3 separate regions of the Homo sapiens genome follow, and regions 2 and 3 are each linked to region 1. Evidence: fine-mapped expression QTL. A gene starts in region 1. Each other region holds a variant in brackets. All regions are shown on one strand. Distances are between the middles of the regions. Region 1 holds the start of PPP2R5C (protein phosphatase 2 regulatory subunit B'gamma). Region 2 overlaps LINC02320 (long intergenic non-protein coding RNA 2320). Region 3 overlaps PPP2R5C (protein phosphatase 2 regulatory subunit B'gamma).

What was found. PIP is the estimated chance that this variant, and not a neighbour inherited with it, causes the effect.
Region 2: its variant is the best candidate, but not a certain one, in a credible set for the expression of PPP2R5C in thyroid (GTEx, PIP 0.56).
Region 3: its variant is the best candidate, but not a certain one, in a credible set for the expression of PPP2R5C in whole blood (TOPMed, PIP 0.82).

Annotation. Positions count from the first base shown.
Region 1 is chr14:101,758,333-101,764,007 of GRCh38, reverse strand. PPP2R5C (protein phosphatase 2 regulatory subunit B'gamma) reads right to left here and starts at 2,299. Exons shown (of 16, transcript NM_001352913.2): 1 at 2,088-2,299; 2 at 1,038-1,103. The coding sequence starts at 2,114. RefSeq lists silencers at 1,664-1,733, 1,784-2,003, 2,144-2,383, 2,394-2,553, 3,014-3,063 and 2 more.
Region 2 is chr14:101,713,687-101,719,361 of GRCh38, reverse strand. The region is part of intron 1 of LINC02320 (long intergenic non-protein coding RNA 2320); the gene reads left to right. Among named protein-coding and RNA genes, the nearest start is that of LINC00239, 14 kb to the left of the region's middle. RefSeq lists a silencer at 713-918. The variant A/G (reference allele first, on the strand shown) is at 2,340.
Region 3 is chr14:101,906,332-101,911,685 of GRCh38, reverse strand. It overlaps PPP2R5C (protein phosphatase 2 regulatory subunit B'gamma), which reads right to left. Exons shown (of 16, transcript NM_001352913.2): 12 at 5,157-5,284; 13 at 1,996-2,097. Among named protein-coding and RNA genes, the nearest start is that of DYNC1H1, 56 kb to the left of the region's middle. The variant A/G (reference allele first, on the strand shown) is at 2,365.

The DNA of each region.
Region 1 (5,675 bases):
CACAATGTGAACAATAATAAAATACCAAAACTAGGTAAATTTTTTCAAATACCAACATTATTGGAGAAAGAGGCCAAGGGACCGTCAACAGAAATAGGGAGCTAGCCCAGGACGTCAGTAGCAGAGGTGGTTTGAAGGAAAACAAGGTGATGGAAGAAAAAGAACTAACCACTGAGTTGCCTGGCAGCTTGCAATGGAAGTGGCGGTGGGGAGATGACCCTAAAGCTAAAAGCAACATAGCAACACCATAGACTGCATAAGACCAATCTATACAGGAGGGTTGCTGGGTTTGAGGTGTGGGAAATGAACTTAAAAATACCAGATCCAGGATGGGCACGGTGGCTCAGGCCTGTAATCCCAGCACCTTAGGAGGCCAAGGTGGGCGGGTCACGAGGACAGGAGTTCAAGACCGGCCTGACCAACCTGGTGAAACCCCGTCTCTAATAAAAATACAAAAATTAGCCGGGCGTGGTAGCGGGTGCCTGTAATCCCAGCTACTCAGGAGGCTGAGGCAGGAGAATTGCTTGAACTCGGGAGGCAGAGGTTGCAGTGAGCCAAGATCGCGCCACTGCACTCCAGCCTGGGTGACAGAGTGAGACTCTATTAAAAAAAAAAAAAAATTTGTTGGGTGTGGTGGCATGTTCCTGTGGTCCCAGCTACTTGGGAGGCTGAGGTAAGAGGATCACTTGAGCCTGGGCGGCAAGGGGTAGCAGTGAGCAGAGATTGCGCCACTGCACTCCAGCCTGCGTGACAAAGTGAGACCCCGTCTCAAAAAAATAAAAAACAAAAAAAACCCCAAAAGACCCACAAACAAACCCCATAGGCAAGCACAATTTTCATAAAATCATTAATAGTTTTCCAAAGCAAAACAGTAAATACCTAAACAACTAAAATTGAGGGTTATAAAAGACACCACAAAAAAAAAACCTCACATAGGGAAACATTTTAGAAGATTCTAGGCTTTATCACTCTCGGTTTTTCTACCTGAAGTTAAAAGCTGTGTATAAAATACAAAGTCAATATTTGATGACAGTTACCTCTGATTCTACTGTGTCTTGTCCTTCTTTTGAACTTTTTCCACTCTTCCCTGCTTTTGGTGATTCCTGGTAAACATCAAGCAAAGTCAATTAGTCTTCTCACTTTTTAGACAGGTAAACATCAGATAAGCCAAATGCAGTTTTAAAAGTGATTTATACAACTACAGCTTCTGATATTTTTAATTCATACCATTAGGAAATTCTATATCATACCGTTTAGGATTCCAACAGTGCAATGCCCCCCAACCCCCATTCAGATTCTTTTCGTTTTATCTGCATTTGAGGTTGAAAACTTCAAGCAGAAAACAGATAAATCCAATTTTATACAGTGCTTCTGGCATTTTGAGATCCACATCACATCCCTTTCTACCCTCCCACCCTAAACCCTATGAGTGAGGATTTCTGGGGTGATAATGAAACGCTACAGAGCTCCACCTGAAGCAGAAACATACCCGCCCCCCCGAATGCAAACGCAGCACCCTTGCTCGCAGCCCTCACCGCCGCCGCCACCCAGGATAATAATAGTGTTCGAGAGCCCCAGAGCGTCCCTCCGGGGCGGCAGAGAATTCCTTACCAGCTCTCAGCGGGGTCCCTTCTCGCTCCCTTTCCCCCGTACAGGGGTCCCTCCCCAGGCGTCTACAGCCCCCATCCCTGAAGCTCCTTTCCGGGAGCCTGCGAGGCTGCGAACCCCCTCGGCGGCCGCACCTGCCCGCCCAAGCCCACGGCGCGCTGTCGGAAACGGGCGCCCCTCCGACCCCCTCCCCGGGCCGCGCCCTCCCTCCACGCCCAGCCCCGGCCCATCACGAAGGTCCCAGCGGCCCGGGCCTGCGCCCCGCGGCTCCGGCGCGATCCCCGGGCTCCCCGCCCCCACCGGGCATGAGGCCGAGAGAAGCCCGGGGATGCCTGGCTCGGCCGCCCTCGGGGACGCGAAGCCCGCGGCGTCAGGCGGGGAACTGAGCCGGGGCCCGGGCGCAGGACCCCGGTGCCGTCGCGCCCTCCCCCGGCAGTCCCTCCCTGCTCCCTCCGTCCCGCGGCCGGGCCCGGACTCACTTTCTCCTTCTTGTTTTTATTCGGCATGGCTGGAGCGGGCCGCCGCCGCCGCCGCCGCCCCTGCCGCCGCCTGCCCCCGCAGCAGCAGCGCCCCCGCCCCGGCCGTCGCGCCCCCGCGGCCGCCGCCGCCGCCGCCGCCCGGGGACTGAGTCTTTCGCTTGCTCTCGCTTCCCCTTTTCCAGACTCCCAGAGGCTGCGGCAGCCACGGCGGCGGCGGCGGCGGCGGCGGCGGCAGCGGCGGCGTCTCTCCGCCCCTCCCCCGGCCGGCCCGCCCCGCCCCTCTCCTCCCACCCCCCGGCCGGCCGCCCCGCCCCGCCCGCCGCTCGCCCCACCCCCGCGCCCGGCCCCGCCCCGCTGCACTCAACAGCGCCCTGCCATTGGTCGACGCGCCCCCACGTACCCTAACGCTCCCCGCTCCCCCCACCCTCTCCGCGCGACCCGTTCACGCCCCCGCCCTCCGTCCCGAGTCGCTGCGAGCCGGCCTCAGGCAGGCCGCGGCCTCCTGGCGCGGGGCTGACCGCTGAGCAGAGCTGAGCCGACTCAGGGGAGGGAGCATGTGGCTGCGACTGCGGTGACAGGGCCGTGGCCCGCTGTGGAGGCGCAAGACAGAGCGTGAGACGTAGGAAATGCACATTTGAAATGTATGGCAACAACTTCTGCAGCCGGCGAAACGCGAACCGTGGCCTCTTGGCCTTGCCCCCTCACCGCCGCGGCTCTCGTTGCAGTCAAGAGTGCCTGGCACGCTTTGCACTGAGGCGCACGGGGAGGCCCGGGAACCGAGCGAGCGGCAGTTTCGCGGGACACCGCTGGGCCCCGCCTCCCCTCCCTTCCCTCCCCTCCCCTTCCCTCCTCTCCCTCCACTCCCCTCCCCTCCGTCCCCTCCCCTCGACCACCCCGTCCCCTGCCCTCCCCTTCTCTCGACCAGCCCGTCCCCTGCCCTCCCCTCCCCTCCCCTCGACCAGCCCGTCCCCTCCCCTCCTCTTCCCTCGGCCAGCCCCTCCCCTCGGCCAGCCCTTCCCCTCGACCAACCCCTCTCCTCGACCGGCCCCTCCCCTCGACCGGCCCCTCCCCTTGGCCGGGCCCTCCCCTTGACCGGCCCCTCCCCTCGACCGGCCCCTCCCCTCGGCCGGCCCCTTCCCTCGGCCAGCCCCTCCCCTCGACCAGCCCCTCCCCTCGACCAGCCCCTCCCCTCACCAGCTCAGCTTTCCGCAGCTCCTCCCGCGAGGTCCCGCCCATCCGACAGCCCGCCCCTCCCTGGTTGGTCCCGCCCTCCGCAGTTTCTCCCGCAAGGTCCCGCCTACCCGACAGTCCCGTCCTTTCCTGGTTGGTCCCGCCCTCCGCAGCTTTTGCCGCGAGGTCCCACCCACCCGACAGCCCCGCCCCTCTCCAGTCGGCCCCGCCCTCCGCAGCTCCTTCCGCGAGGTCACGCCCACATGCGCAGCCCCTCTCCTCCGGCGTCGGCCCCGCCCACCGAGGCGAGGCCTCAAAGACTTGGTGGCCGCTGCGCCAATAGGATTTTATTTTTATTCTTTAATTTGGCTTGATCATAAATGGTGAGGAAACCTCTGCATGACTGGGAGTCACCTGATTTCTCTCAGCTTGTTAATAGCTGTGAGGAGAGGGTGTCCAAGGGAAAAACGTTAACTTTTCAATACAATACTTCCGCGGTCCACCTCGTGCCCAAAACTATTGAAGACGCTAAGGACAGGCGTCCCAGATTGCAGAAATGCATTAGGTAGTAAGACTCTAGGAGCGTACGGATTTCACGTGCGAGAGGCATTGGTGCTTCACCTGTGATGATGAAGGAGCTGCATCTTAACTGGCAGCTTAAAAATCATCGCGTTCTCTTAGCCCCCGGAGTTTTGTTCTTGGAAGTTTCCAGGCAAAGCATTTTCCATTATTCTCAGCAGTTCTGCAATGAGAAAGCTGAAAGACGGGGTAAGAAAAAAAAGATCTAAAGGGAGGAATGTTGTGGGAGGTCCAGAAAGTAAGTTCTGTCTGCGGGTATCTGAATGTCTGCCGGCTCTTAGACGAATATCTGTAGGTAAGCAGGACAGTCTCAACTATTTGTGCGGAATAAGTGGCTTTTTTATTAATAATTTAAGTGGGTTAATGGTGTCTCCAAAACAATTTTGAGGATAGAGCGATGCCCCTAGTTAACTTAATAACATTTTAAAAATAAAATATGTGCTGTCAATTTAATAAGTCCAGGATATATCCATATCAAAAAGGAGTAGCTCTGAAACTATTGGTTTATGGCCATGAACTCTTAGGGAGGCTTAGAGGCATCTCTGAGACAATCCTTTGCCACCCAAATCCTTGTATCATATCTCCTGATCCGGTGTTGCATACAATTCATTCATTCGACCCACATTTGTTGGATAACTACTATGTGCAAAGCATGATGCCAGAAATTTCATGGTGAACAAGGCACTACCCTTGTCCTCAAGCAGTTCACATGCTTGCATGGAAATAGAAAAAACCAGCAATCAGAAGGACATGACATGTGACAAGTCTACAGGACTGGGGTGAGGGGGGTCAGGCTTGGAAGCATGACAGAGCACTGCACAGGACGTTTTGTTATGGCCGGAGATGAGACTGAAGGAACAGCGACGCTGAATTAAGACTGGTAGACCTTGCCAAGATATTGTACTTCTTTTTGAATGCATTTCAGGGTCACTGACAGATACTGAAGTGGGGAGTGATGTACTCACATTTGCATTTTAGAAGACATCGGTGGCAGGAGTGTGGAGGAGGTGAGGGTGGAAGTAAAAGCAGGAGGCAGAAAGAGCAATCAGCATCCAGCTATGGTTCAGGTGCGTGCCAGGGAGGCATCTCCACAGCAACGGGGGGAAGGATCGCCGACGCGACAGAGAGCCAGAATCGAGGATAAAAAGCGAATGCTCATGCTTGTAGTTTGGGCAACACAGTGAATGATGAGGAAGGGATGCAAGTGGAGGGCAGGTTTGCAAGGGAACAAGATTCCAGTTTGGGACACGTTGCTGTGTCCGCAAAATGTAGGTAGAGGTGTCCAAGATGGCAACTGGAAATATAGCATAGAGGACTAGTTGCATGTCAGGTTAGAGGTTTCTCAGGTCAGTTTAGAGTTTTAGGGAAAGCATAGGGACAGGGTACAAGCAAAGCTGCCTGATTAACATCCAGTGACCTTGAAACCATAGCAACCAGAGAAATCTGACTCAACACCATTACCTGTACAACTGCATGTGTACGTCACTGGCCATTGGACTGGCTTCATTTGCCCACATTAGGGAGGACCATCTTTAAGGACAGTTAGTTACCGACTACCCGTAGAACACACTGGGTTTCATGCAGTGTCTTAGGTGCTGTGGTATTTACAGGAACGCTAAAGATAGATATAGCTCCTGCTCCCAAAAGAAGGGATTCAGGACAAGCTATTGAGATAGGATATAAAGCCATTATGTGGGTGTGTGTGTGTGTGTGTGGCTGAGGGTTACCTCTTCCAGGATGGCCCCACATTCCATGTTCATGAAGGCACTGCTCGCATCACACAAAACTCCTTTTCTTCCAACCCCTGCTCCTCTGGGACACTTTTTTGAGATGGTCCCT
Region 2 (5,675 bases), 45 kb after region 1:
AGGCACACAGCTGGAGAGTCACTCCAGGACAGAACCCAGGGAGGAAAGGGCCGCTGGGAGAGGCATTCGTAGAAACAGACAGACGTGGGGCCCGAAGAGCCCTGGAGACTGCTGCGCCCAGATCTATGCTTGGCCTATTCAGTTCTTGAGCTAAGAATCCTTCCTACTCCCCTCCCCTCCCCTCCCCTCCCCTCACAGCATATGGTACATTTGTCACCATTATAGCACCATTTTTGACATATTAAATCCACCTTTTATTCAGATTCCCTTAGTTTTTCCCTAATGTCGTCTTCCTGTTCCACGATTCTACTCAGGACTCCACGTGACATTCAGGTGACATGCCTCCTTAGGTCCCTCCCCTCCCCTCCCTTCTCCTCCCCTCCCTTCCCCTTCCTTCTCCTTCCCTGCTCCCCTGCCCTCCCCCTCCTCCCCTCCCTTCCCCTTCCCTCCCCTCCCCTCTCCTCCTCTCCCCTCTCCTCCCCTCTCCTCCCCTCTCCTTTCCTTTCCTTTTTATTGACACAAGGTCTCACTCTGCCACAATCTTGGCTCCAGCCTCAACCTCCAAGGCTCAAGCAATCCCCTTACCTCAGCCTCCCGAGTAGCTGAGACTATAGGCATGTGCCAGCACACCAAGCTATTTTTTGGTATTTTTTGTACAGACAGGGGTTTCACCATGTTGCCAAAGCTGGTCTCGAACTCCTGAGCTCAAGGGATCTGCCCACCTCGGCCTCCCAGAGTGCTGGGATTACAGGTGTGAGCCACCATGCCCAGCTAGAAATTTTCCTCTGGTTAAAGTGGTTTAATTTAAGTTTCTGTCATTTGCAACCAAACGATTTAATAGATAAGGCTCTGGGTGGCATTTTCTTCTGCTTAGGCTGCCATAAGAAGTGCCACAGACTGGGTGGCTTAAACAGCAGAAACTTGTTTCTCACAGTTTTGGAGGCTGGAAGTCCACATCAGGGCGCTCGTGGGGTTGGTTTCTGGGAAGGCCTCTCTTCCTGGCCGGCGGGTGTCACCTTCTCACGGCATCCTCCCATGGCCTCTTCCCTGTGCACACTTAGAGAGGGGGTGGTCTCTGGTGTCTTTCCTCTTGGTATAAGGACTCCAACCCTATTGGCTTGAGGGCCCACCCTCGTGGCCTCATAACCTTAGCTACCTCCCTGATGGCCCTATCTTCGAATGTGGTCGCATTGGAGGCCAGTGATTCAGCACCGGAATTTCTCTGAGAAATCCAGTCTGTAACAGGTTGAATTGTGTCTGCCAAAATCCATGTGTTGGAGTCGTAACTCCCAGCGTCTCAGAATGTGAACTTATTTGGATACAGGGTCATTGCAGATGTATTGAAGTGAAGATGTGGTCATTAGGGTGGGTCCTAGTCCACCTGACCGATGTCTTTATCCAAAAGGGGAAATTTGGACACAGACACGCACACAGGGAGAGGGCCACGTGTGGATTGGAGTTCTGCTGCCCCAAGCCAAGGAACCAGCAGAAGCTCTGAGGGAGGCCAGGAACAGGCCCTTCCTAGCGCCCTCAGAGGGAGCACAGCCCTGCCTGCACCGTGGTCTCAGACTTCTGACCTCCAAAACTGTGAAGGGGTCGTGTCTAGTCCAAGCCATGATATTAGCCAGCAAGGGCTGCTGTAACAAATCTCACAGACGCAGGGCTTCAACCACAGAAATGTGTCCTCTCACGGTTCTGGAGGTCAGAAGTCTGAGACAAAGATGCCGGCAGAGCTGATTTCTCTGGAGGCCTCTCTCCTTGGTCTGCAGGCGGCCGCCTGCTCGCTGCACCCTCACATGCTCTATTTTTATGCACTCACACATCCCTGGTGGCTCTTTGTGTGTCTGAATCACCTCTTTTTTTTTTTTTTTTTAAAGGATGTCAGCCGGGTTGGATTAGGGCCAACCTAAGGGCCTCAATTTAACTCAATCACCTTTTTAAAGGCCCAGTCTCCAAATGCAGCCACATTCTGAGGTACTGGGGGTTAGGGCTTCAACACAGGAATCGGCGGGTGAAGGGTGGCTGGGGGACACAGCCTGTGAGCTTTGTTATGGCAGCTCGAGGAAACTCTGCAGCCTCTAGAGGATTGTCTTTAAGGGGCTGGACCCTCAAGCCGGCTCTGTGCAGTCCCAGGGTGGTCTCCTCTGGTCCTGCCCTCTGTGCAGACCCTCAAAGCGACAGCCTGGCCTGTGACTCCCAGTGCCGCGGCCCCTCCCTTCCTTCCCAGGTCCTCTCCGCTCTCTGCCCACATTAGAATCTCCCCGGCTGCCCATTCACAGGCACCTCCTGCATCCCCACTTCCACTGCGCCCGCTGGATAACTGCACCTGTGCATTCTAA[A/G]TAAAGATGCATTTATTGAGCGTCTAGGGATCTGCCCTGGCAGTTCCCATGGTCTAAAAAGGAAGTCAGACAAGTAAAGACTGCGGGTTATGAGATAATTACAACTGGGCACTGTCTGGGTCAGACACTTCCCTCCACAGCCCATGTCCTGCAGCCAGCAGGGGCGCCTTTTCCTTGTTGGCACAGAGACTCCTTGCAGTCCAGCCGAAGAGGGGTCACAGGGTGGGCATTCTGGGAGCCAAGGGTGGCTCTGCTGAGGAGTGCACCCAGAGCTGGGTGTCGGTTAAACTCTCCTGTTGAGAGGCTGCCCAGGTGGCGGTGCGCAGCAGGGGGCTCTGACTCGGGAATGTGGGCAGGTGCAGCGGCAGGAGAGCTGAGAGGTGCAGAGATGGGTCAGGGGCCTGGGAGAGTGCAAGGGAGAAACATGTGAAGGCATGAGCCAAGGCAGCCACTGTGGGAACGAGAGGTTGACACGGGTGCCAGAGGAATGGAGAGCTGGTGTCCTGCAGGGGTGACTGGGGCAGGAAGCTACCCGCTGGCAGGCCTGCCGAGGGGCTGGGATGGGTGAGGTTAGTGCTGGGTCAGCGGTTCCACTGCAGTCTGTGTCAATTTGAAATTCTATGCCTGCGGAAGAGGGAGAGCCTCCCAATCTTCAACACTGCAGCCAGCAGTGGAGGGGATGCAGCCTCCAGTTGGCGTCTTGGCTTGGGGTGGGGCAGGCAGGTCAGGGGGTGTTGCTCAGACCCAGTGGACAGACCTTGATGAGTTCTCACCAGTGTGACTCTCCATGCTGCCCCCCACCGGCCCTCACTGGCCACGTCCTGTTCCATACTCAGGTTTCTGACCCATGATATGGTTTGGATCTTTGTCTCCGCCCAAATCTCATGTGGAATTGCAATCCTCAATATGGAGATAGGGCTTCGTGGGAGGCAGCTTTGCCAGGCCTGGAGGTCACCACCTGGTCAGCCATTGGATTTATTCATCCCAAAGGGGACTCTTGGCTTCGCTTGGGGTGAATGTCCACAGGTCCCAGATGACCCAAGAGTGGAGGCTGGAAGTGGAGCTGCCCTTGGAGAGAGGCCGGCACTGGAGTGCTGTAGTCCGTTCTTGCACTGCTATAAAGAAATACCTGAGACTGGGTAATTTATAAAGGAAGCAGGTGTCATTGGCTCGTGGTTCCACAGGCTATACAGGAAGCATGGCAGCATCTGCCTCTGGGGAGGCCTTGGGGATCTTTGACTTATGGCTGAGGCCAAGCAGGAGCACCAAGGTGGGTGGTGTTAAACCATGAGAAACCGCCCCAAGATCCAGTCACCTCCCACCAGGCCCCACCTCCAGCACTGGGGTTTGCAACTGCAGTATCCCCACCTCTCCCCAGACTTTCCCGGACAATCACTTGAAGACCTGCAAGACAGAGAAGCAGATGCCCCCGAAGCTTCCACTCACAGCCCTGCAACACCTGGGCTGCCTGCCTCCCTCTGTAGTATCACACACATTTAACTCATCGACCCAAGAGTGAGATCAAGATCTTCACTGCTTGTGCACGCATGAGGGGAGGGCGCCTACAACTCAGATGATCCAAGCACTGGCGCCAAAGGCTCAGAATCCTCTGGACTAGCTCTGCCCAATAGGGATGTCATGTGAGCCACAAGTGCGAACCACGTAGGTGTTAAAAAATTCTTAGTGCCCACATTTCAAAAGTAAAAAGAAAAAGATGACATTGATTTTAGTAATATATTTAATGTAGTCCAAGATATGCTCAAAATATTATCATCGCAACATGCCATCAAAATAAAACTTATTAATGAGATATTTTGCCTTCATCCTTTTTTCCTACTAAATCTTTTTTTTTTTTTTTTTTTTTTAAATTGAGAAGAGGCTCACTCTGTAACCCAGGCTGGAGTGCAGTGGCATGATCATAGCTTACTGAAGCCTCGACCTCCCAGGCTCAGGGTATCCTTCCACCTCAGCCTCCTGGGTAGATGGGACTACAGGTGCCTGCACCATGCCTGGCTAATTTTTAAAAATTTCTACAGAGACAAGTTCTCTCTATGTTGCCCAGACTGGGAAATTTTTTTCTAGAAATGGGGTCTTCCTATGTTGCCCAGGCTGGTCTCAAGGGATCTTCCCACCTCAGCCTCCCAAATTGTTGGGATTATAGGCCTAAGCCACTGTACCCAGCCTTTATACAGAATCATTACATTTCAGTGTATATTTTGCATTTTATAGCCCATCCCAATTCATACTGGCTCAGTAGCCACATGTGGCTGGTAGCTGTGTCTTGGTTGTTATAGGTGTTATGGACTAAACGTTTGTCTCCCCCAAATTCATGTGTTGAATTCCTAACCTTCAACACAAGGATATTCAGAGGTGGGCCTTTGGGATGTAATTAGGTCATGAGGGTGTGGCCCTCATGAATGGGATTAGTGCCCTTATACGAAGAGACAGTGGAGTTTGCTCCTCCTCTGTCTGCTGTCTGCCATGTAGGACACAATGAGAAGGTGGCTATCTACAAACCTGGAAGTGAGCTCGTATCAGACAGGGGATCTACCAGCACCTTGATCTTGGACTCCCCAGACCCTAGAACTCTAAGAAATAAATCTGTTATTTAAGCCACCCATTTAATGGTAGTTTGTTACCACAGCCTGTCTTAGTCCATTTACTGTGGCTTATAACAGAATACCTGAAACTGGGTAATTAATAAAGAAACAAGATTTATTTCTTACAGTCCTGAAGGCTGGGAAGTCCAAGGTTGAGAGGCTGCATCTGGTGAGGGCCTTCATGCTAGCAGGGACTTTCTGCAAAGTCCCAAGGCAGCCCAGGGCATCACAAGATGAGGGGCTGAGTGTGCAAGCTCAGTTCTCTCTCCTTGTTATAGAGCCACAAGTCCTACTCCCAAGAACATCCATTAGCCCATTACTCGCTGAATGGAGTAATCTACTCATGAGGGAAGGGGACATATGACATAATCACCTCTTAAAGGCCCCACCTCCCAATACTGCCACATTGGGGGTTAAATTTCAACATGAGGAAGGAGACAAACATTCAAACCATAGCATAGTGCAAGCCAGGGAAGACAGTAGGTCTAGTATGGCCCGGGATAAGAAGGGAACTGCTAAAACCATGCTTGAGCAGGAGACAGCCAGTGAGACACTAGAACCAGCCTTTGTAGCCACAGCAATGGACCAAGAACACTCAGCATCTTCTCACCTGCTTGTCAAGACATTAGAAAGAAAAGCGGTGCTGCAAGATTATACTTGGGTGAGATCTCAGTGGGTGGGGTGAGATGACAGTGGGTGGGGAGAGATGACGGTGGGTGGGGTGAGATCTCGGTGG
Region 3 (5,354 bases), 150 kb before region 1:
GTCTCGAACTCCTGACCTCAAATGATCCACCAGCCATAACCTCCCAAAGTGCTGGGATTACAGGTGTGAGCCACTGCGCCCGGCCAGGATCCAAGTTTTTCAACCCAGAAAATGTACTACACAACCTTTAAGGTCCTGTTGGGAAAGCTGTGGGATTCCACGAGAGGAGGATCTGCCATCAGAAGGCCCTGCTGCTTGCATGCTTCCTACCTGCGAACTGCACTGAGAGCTGAGATGAGAACAGACCATGCAGCTGGCAGCTCTAGAGGAATGGCTGGTCTGTCTCCCCGGCCCTTTCCTGACTGACTTGTCATCTCTCATGCTCTATAGTTCACTTAGGTGTATTTTGTGTTCTTTTATTTCCCCACACTACCCAGAATATAAACCCCAAAAGGGCAAGGATTTTTTTTTTGAGACGGAGTCTCGCTCTGTCGCCCAGGCTGGAGTGCAGTGGCGTGATCTTGGCTCACTGCAAGCTCCGCCTCCAGGTTCACGCCATCCTCCTGCCTCAGCCCGAGTAGCTGGGACTACAGGCACCCGCCACCACACCCGGCTGATTTTTTTTTGTATTTTTTTTTTTTTTGAGACGGAGTCTCTCTCTGTCTCCCAGGCTGGAGTGCAGTGGTGTGAGCTCAGCTCACTGCAAGCTCCGCCTCCCAGGTTCACACCATTCTCCTGCCTCAGACTCTGAGTAGCTGGGACCACAGGCGCCTGCCACCACGCCCGGCTAATTTTTTGTATTTTCAGTAGAGACGGGGTTTCACTGTGTTCGCCAGGCTTGTCTCGAACTCCTGACCTCAGGTGATCTGCCTGCTTTGGCCTCCCAAAGTGCTGGGATTACAGGCATGAGCCACCATGCCCGGCCTTTTTTTTTGTATTTTTAGTAGAGACGGGGTTTCATTGTGTTAGCCAGGATGGTCTCGATCTCCTGACCTCGTGATCTGCCTGCATCGGCCTCCCAAAGCGCTGGGATTACAGGCATGAGCCACCACGCCTGGCCCTTTTTTGGTATTTTTTAGTAGAGATGGGGTTTCACCGTGTTAGCCAGCATGGTCTCAATCTCCTGACCTTGTGATCCACCCGCCTTGGCCTCCCAAAGTGCTGGGATTACAGGCGTGAGCCACCGCACCCGGCCCAGGGGCAAGGATTTTTGTGGGTTTTATTCATTGCTATATTGCCAGAATCTAAAACAGGGCCTGGTGTATAAGGTAAATATTCACATATTTGTCTAAGGAATGACTAAATGGCAGTTGTTTCATATATATACACACACACACACACACATAGATACACACATATGTATACAGTGTATTTTGAATTACATTCGTGCAAAGCTTATCTACCTTAGCCAGTTTTAAGTGACAAGCAAAAAATAAAATCTGCCAATAGTCCATACTCAACTTGGAAGAAGTGACCTCCAACAACTATTTAATCACATTATTACTTGCACAGCCTAGGGACGAAGTACTTTGTCACTTAGATCATCCCTGGACACATGTGGGCTCAAAGGCACGAGGGCAGGACCCTGATTTTGCAAAGGACAGACTAGATTCCAGAGAACACCCACATCGCTGAGTTCATTAAATCAGAATAAAGCTACATTGAAATGAAGATTCTTGCTCTCTGGGATAAACCTTATAGGATATAATTCAAATCCCTGCCTTATAAACATGAAAATGGACTACACATTATAGCCTTTAAGCCCATTATAGCCCAAGAAAAGAAAAAATTCTGAATGTTAAATTCTTGCTTACATAAGCACTTTTTGCAAAGATGATTAATCTGGCAATACAAGGGGGGAGAATAGCTACCTTTAAACACCTGTTCTTTCAAAATACGTTATTATAACACAGTTTTAATTTGCTTTCCAAGTATGAAAGGCTTGGTTTTGCTTTCGAGTGAAGAATACCGTTTTAGGACAAAACAGTGGAAGAGGTTTACTTAGGATTAAGAAAAAAATCCTGGAAACAGTAACTTGTGAAAGGAACAACTCACTTTAGTTTCTCTGCTTTGAACTGTTGTGTACAGTCATCAAATAGCTTTTGGTTCATCTCCATGAAGAGCTTCAGGGCGTTGTATATCAAGCCATGTATTGTCCTATAAAGAAAACCGCACGGTGAGCCTGGGAGCACGCATTCCTGCTGAGCCCTCGCCTCTCCACTCTCAGGCTGCTCCATATTCCAACAGTCCCACATCGCACAGGATCCCTAAGGTCTAAAATGCAAGGCCTGCTCATTCCGCGTTACTTGTTTTCTGACAGCCACACATCCCGAGACTTTCTTCACAGTGGCTCTCACATAGCCACAGAGGCCACTCCACTCACTGTCTCCAGCTGACAGTAGCCAAAAACGACCTTGCTCAGAA[A/G]CTGAATTAAAAACATTGAAACTTGAACAAATATAGTTAAGACAAAATTATAAAGAGGACAATAATGGCAATACTTGATTTCCTATAAATGTCAGTTTCTTTTCATCTTATTCCCTGAGGACAGAAAAATTAATTTTAATAATGGCAACACAGAGCTTTGAAAGAGAAAATAAAATGAGCATAAAACAGCTTAATCAATGCTTAGCTCTCAGGCTCTGACACGCATGGAGAGGGAAAGAGGCCAAATTGTTCCAGCTGAGCCTCTGGGTGACTCTAGTCCCAGCTGCCATGGGACTGCAGCCCTGTAAGAGCCCCGATCCCCCAGCAGACACCAGCGAAAGCCTGCGCAGCAGGACCTGCTCGACCCGCAGGACTGTGAGCAACAGGTGCCAGTAGCTAAAAACAAATAAATCCCAAAAAACGTAACCCTCAAATCATAATTCCTTCTTAATCCACTTTGTAATAAAACCCAAGTTGTACTTAGAAAACACTTAAAAGAACATTTTTTTCTTTGCAATGGGCGGGGATTGGAAGTCAGTTATGAATTGTGCTGACTTACATACTAAACTAAATTACACACAAGAAACATGGCGACACTCCAGGGGCTTTGTTGTCATTGTTGCGATTAAAAAAAAAAAAATCAATGCAAGCCAGGCGCGGTGGCTCACACCTGTAGTCCCGGCACCGTGGGAGGCTGAGGCGGGTGGGTCACTTCAGGTCAGGAGTTCAAGACCAGCCTGGCCAACATGGTGAAACCCCATCTCTACTACAAATGCAAAAATTAGCCAGGAGTGGTGGCTCATGTCTGTAGTCCCAGCTACTTGGGAGGCTGAGGTGGGAGAATCACTTGAACCTGGGAGGTGGAGGCTGCAGTGAGCCAGGATGGTGCCACTGCACTCCAGTCTGGGTGACAGAGCAAGACTCCATCTCAAAAATAAATAAATAAATAAAATAAATCAATGCTACAAAGAACAGGTTGTTGAGGGTGGATGTGCTGTATTAACAACTACAACCACCACGCTATTGCCATGAGGGTCTTGGCTGCTGCCTCCACTGCTATCAGCATGGCTGCTGGCCCTACAACCACTAAGTGACAGCAAATGCTTACTTGGTGCCTATCATAAGCCAGGTACTTTACGCATATTAACTTTATCTTAATCCTCACAACCAAGTGAAGATTGTTGCAAGGCAAAGCACTTTACTTTCTCAGTTTTTCCAAAGAGAAACTGTGGCTAAGAAAGACCTGGTGAGAGCTAACTTCCCCGGGTTCAGACAGCTGCTCAGGAGGAAGGCAGGAATGTGAACCAAAGTCATCCTCACTCTGATCTGCCTGCCCTTCTCTGTTGAATTTCTGGGCGGCAACCCTCAGAAGACTTGACGCGAGTGGACTGGCTGGACGCTCGCTCGGGGGTCTGGCTCAGAGCTCCAGGGCTAACACCTGTCTGGCTGCTGCCCTGCAGAATTCTGGGAAGGAGGCAGTGCCACCTGCAGCCTCGAGCGGACAAGGAGAGAGGGTGCATGGGAGAGGGCTGGTCCGCCGGCAGCAGGGTGACTGTGCAGCACAGCCAGAGGGGTGCCCAATAGACACTGCGAGTTAGGAGACCGCACCGGGCCAGAGTGCCGCTCACCAGCTTTGGGACCGCAGACTGGGCTGCGAATGCCCTCCAAGTCTCACCTTCCTCACCCATAAACTAAGGGAGGAGGGCTGGATAGCATAACCTGCTCTTCTTTAAGTTCTGAGTTATAATTACAATATACAATGGAAAGAGATGAAAGAAGGTGGGGAAAGAAAAACTCAGTCGTATTTCTTTAAATAGCAGGAATATTAGATGATACCATATTAATAAATAATATGGCCTGGGCGCAGTGGCTCACGTCGTCCCAGCACTTTGGGAGGCTGAGGCAGGTGGAATACTTGAGTCCAGGAGTTCGAGACCAGCCTGGGCAACATGGCAAAACCCCATCTCTACAAAAAATACAAAAATTAGCCAGGCGTAGCGGTGGGTGCCTGTAGTCCCAGCTACTCAGGACCCTGAGGCAGGAGGTTTGCTTGAGCCCAGGAGGTCGAGGCTGAAGTGAGCCATGATCGTGACACTACACTCCAGCCGGGGGGACATAGCAAGACCCTGTCTAAAAATAAACAAATAAAATACAAATTTTAAAAAAGAAAAATAAATAAATAATGTGGCACCCATATCAACAGTTTCCTTTTAAAGTCTCAGAAGACTATTGCTCAGTAAACGGATTTATTCATCCTCTTTAAGTCAAAAGATGAAGGAGCGGAGTAGGAGGAAATGTTTTTGGCTGCTGGGACTATGGGGCTGTGTTCAGATCACCTGGCTTCCCTCTTCTTCTCCAGGTAGTGACCACTGTGGGGTGGTTCTTGGGTCTCACACAGGGGCTCATCCAGGGTGCATGTCAGCAGAGCTCAATAGACACCCCGAGAATGCAGTGGCCACTGTGCCCCCGCCGGGGCTGAGCCCCACTGGGCTCTGCAGAGACCTTCAGCTTCTCTGCAGGACGCTCAGGAAGAGGCCTAGAAACTGCTGCTACTGGGAGGTGGCTGCAAACCAATGTGCCTCTATACTGGCAGGAATGAAGGTATAAGGTGGTAAATTCAACGGCCACAGAAACAACCCACGCTGCTACTTAATTTATGAGTCCACAAAGCAACTGACCTTCTTGTTTTTTAATTGATATTTAAAATTCTGATATTTATTCTTACTGAAGTAGCAGTAAAACGTGCCATATTTTAAAATGACTGAAAAAGATGGCAGCCAGTTCTTTCTTACTTGTTCCAATGGGTCTTTGAGTTGCGGTACAAGGAAGGAAACATGATGGGCAGAATCTTCGCTGCGTTGTCACTGATTAAACTCATGATGTATTCATTATTCCAGTAATAGAGAGCTCGCTCTGCCACCTGAAAGACACAAGTGGATGGCTTGCTGGAGGTTGTGCCTGAGACATCAGGTGGCTGTCCTTGCTGTTAA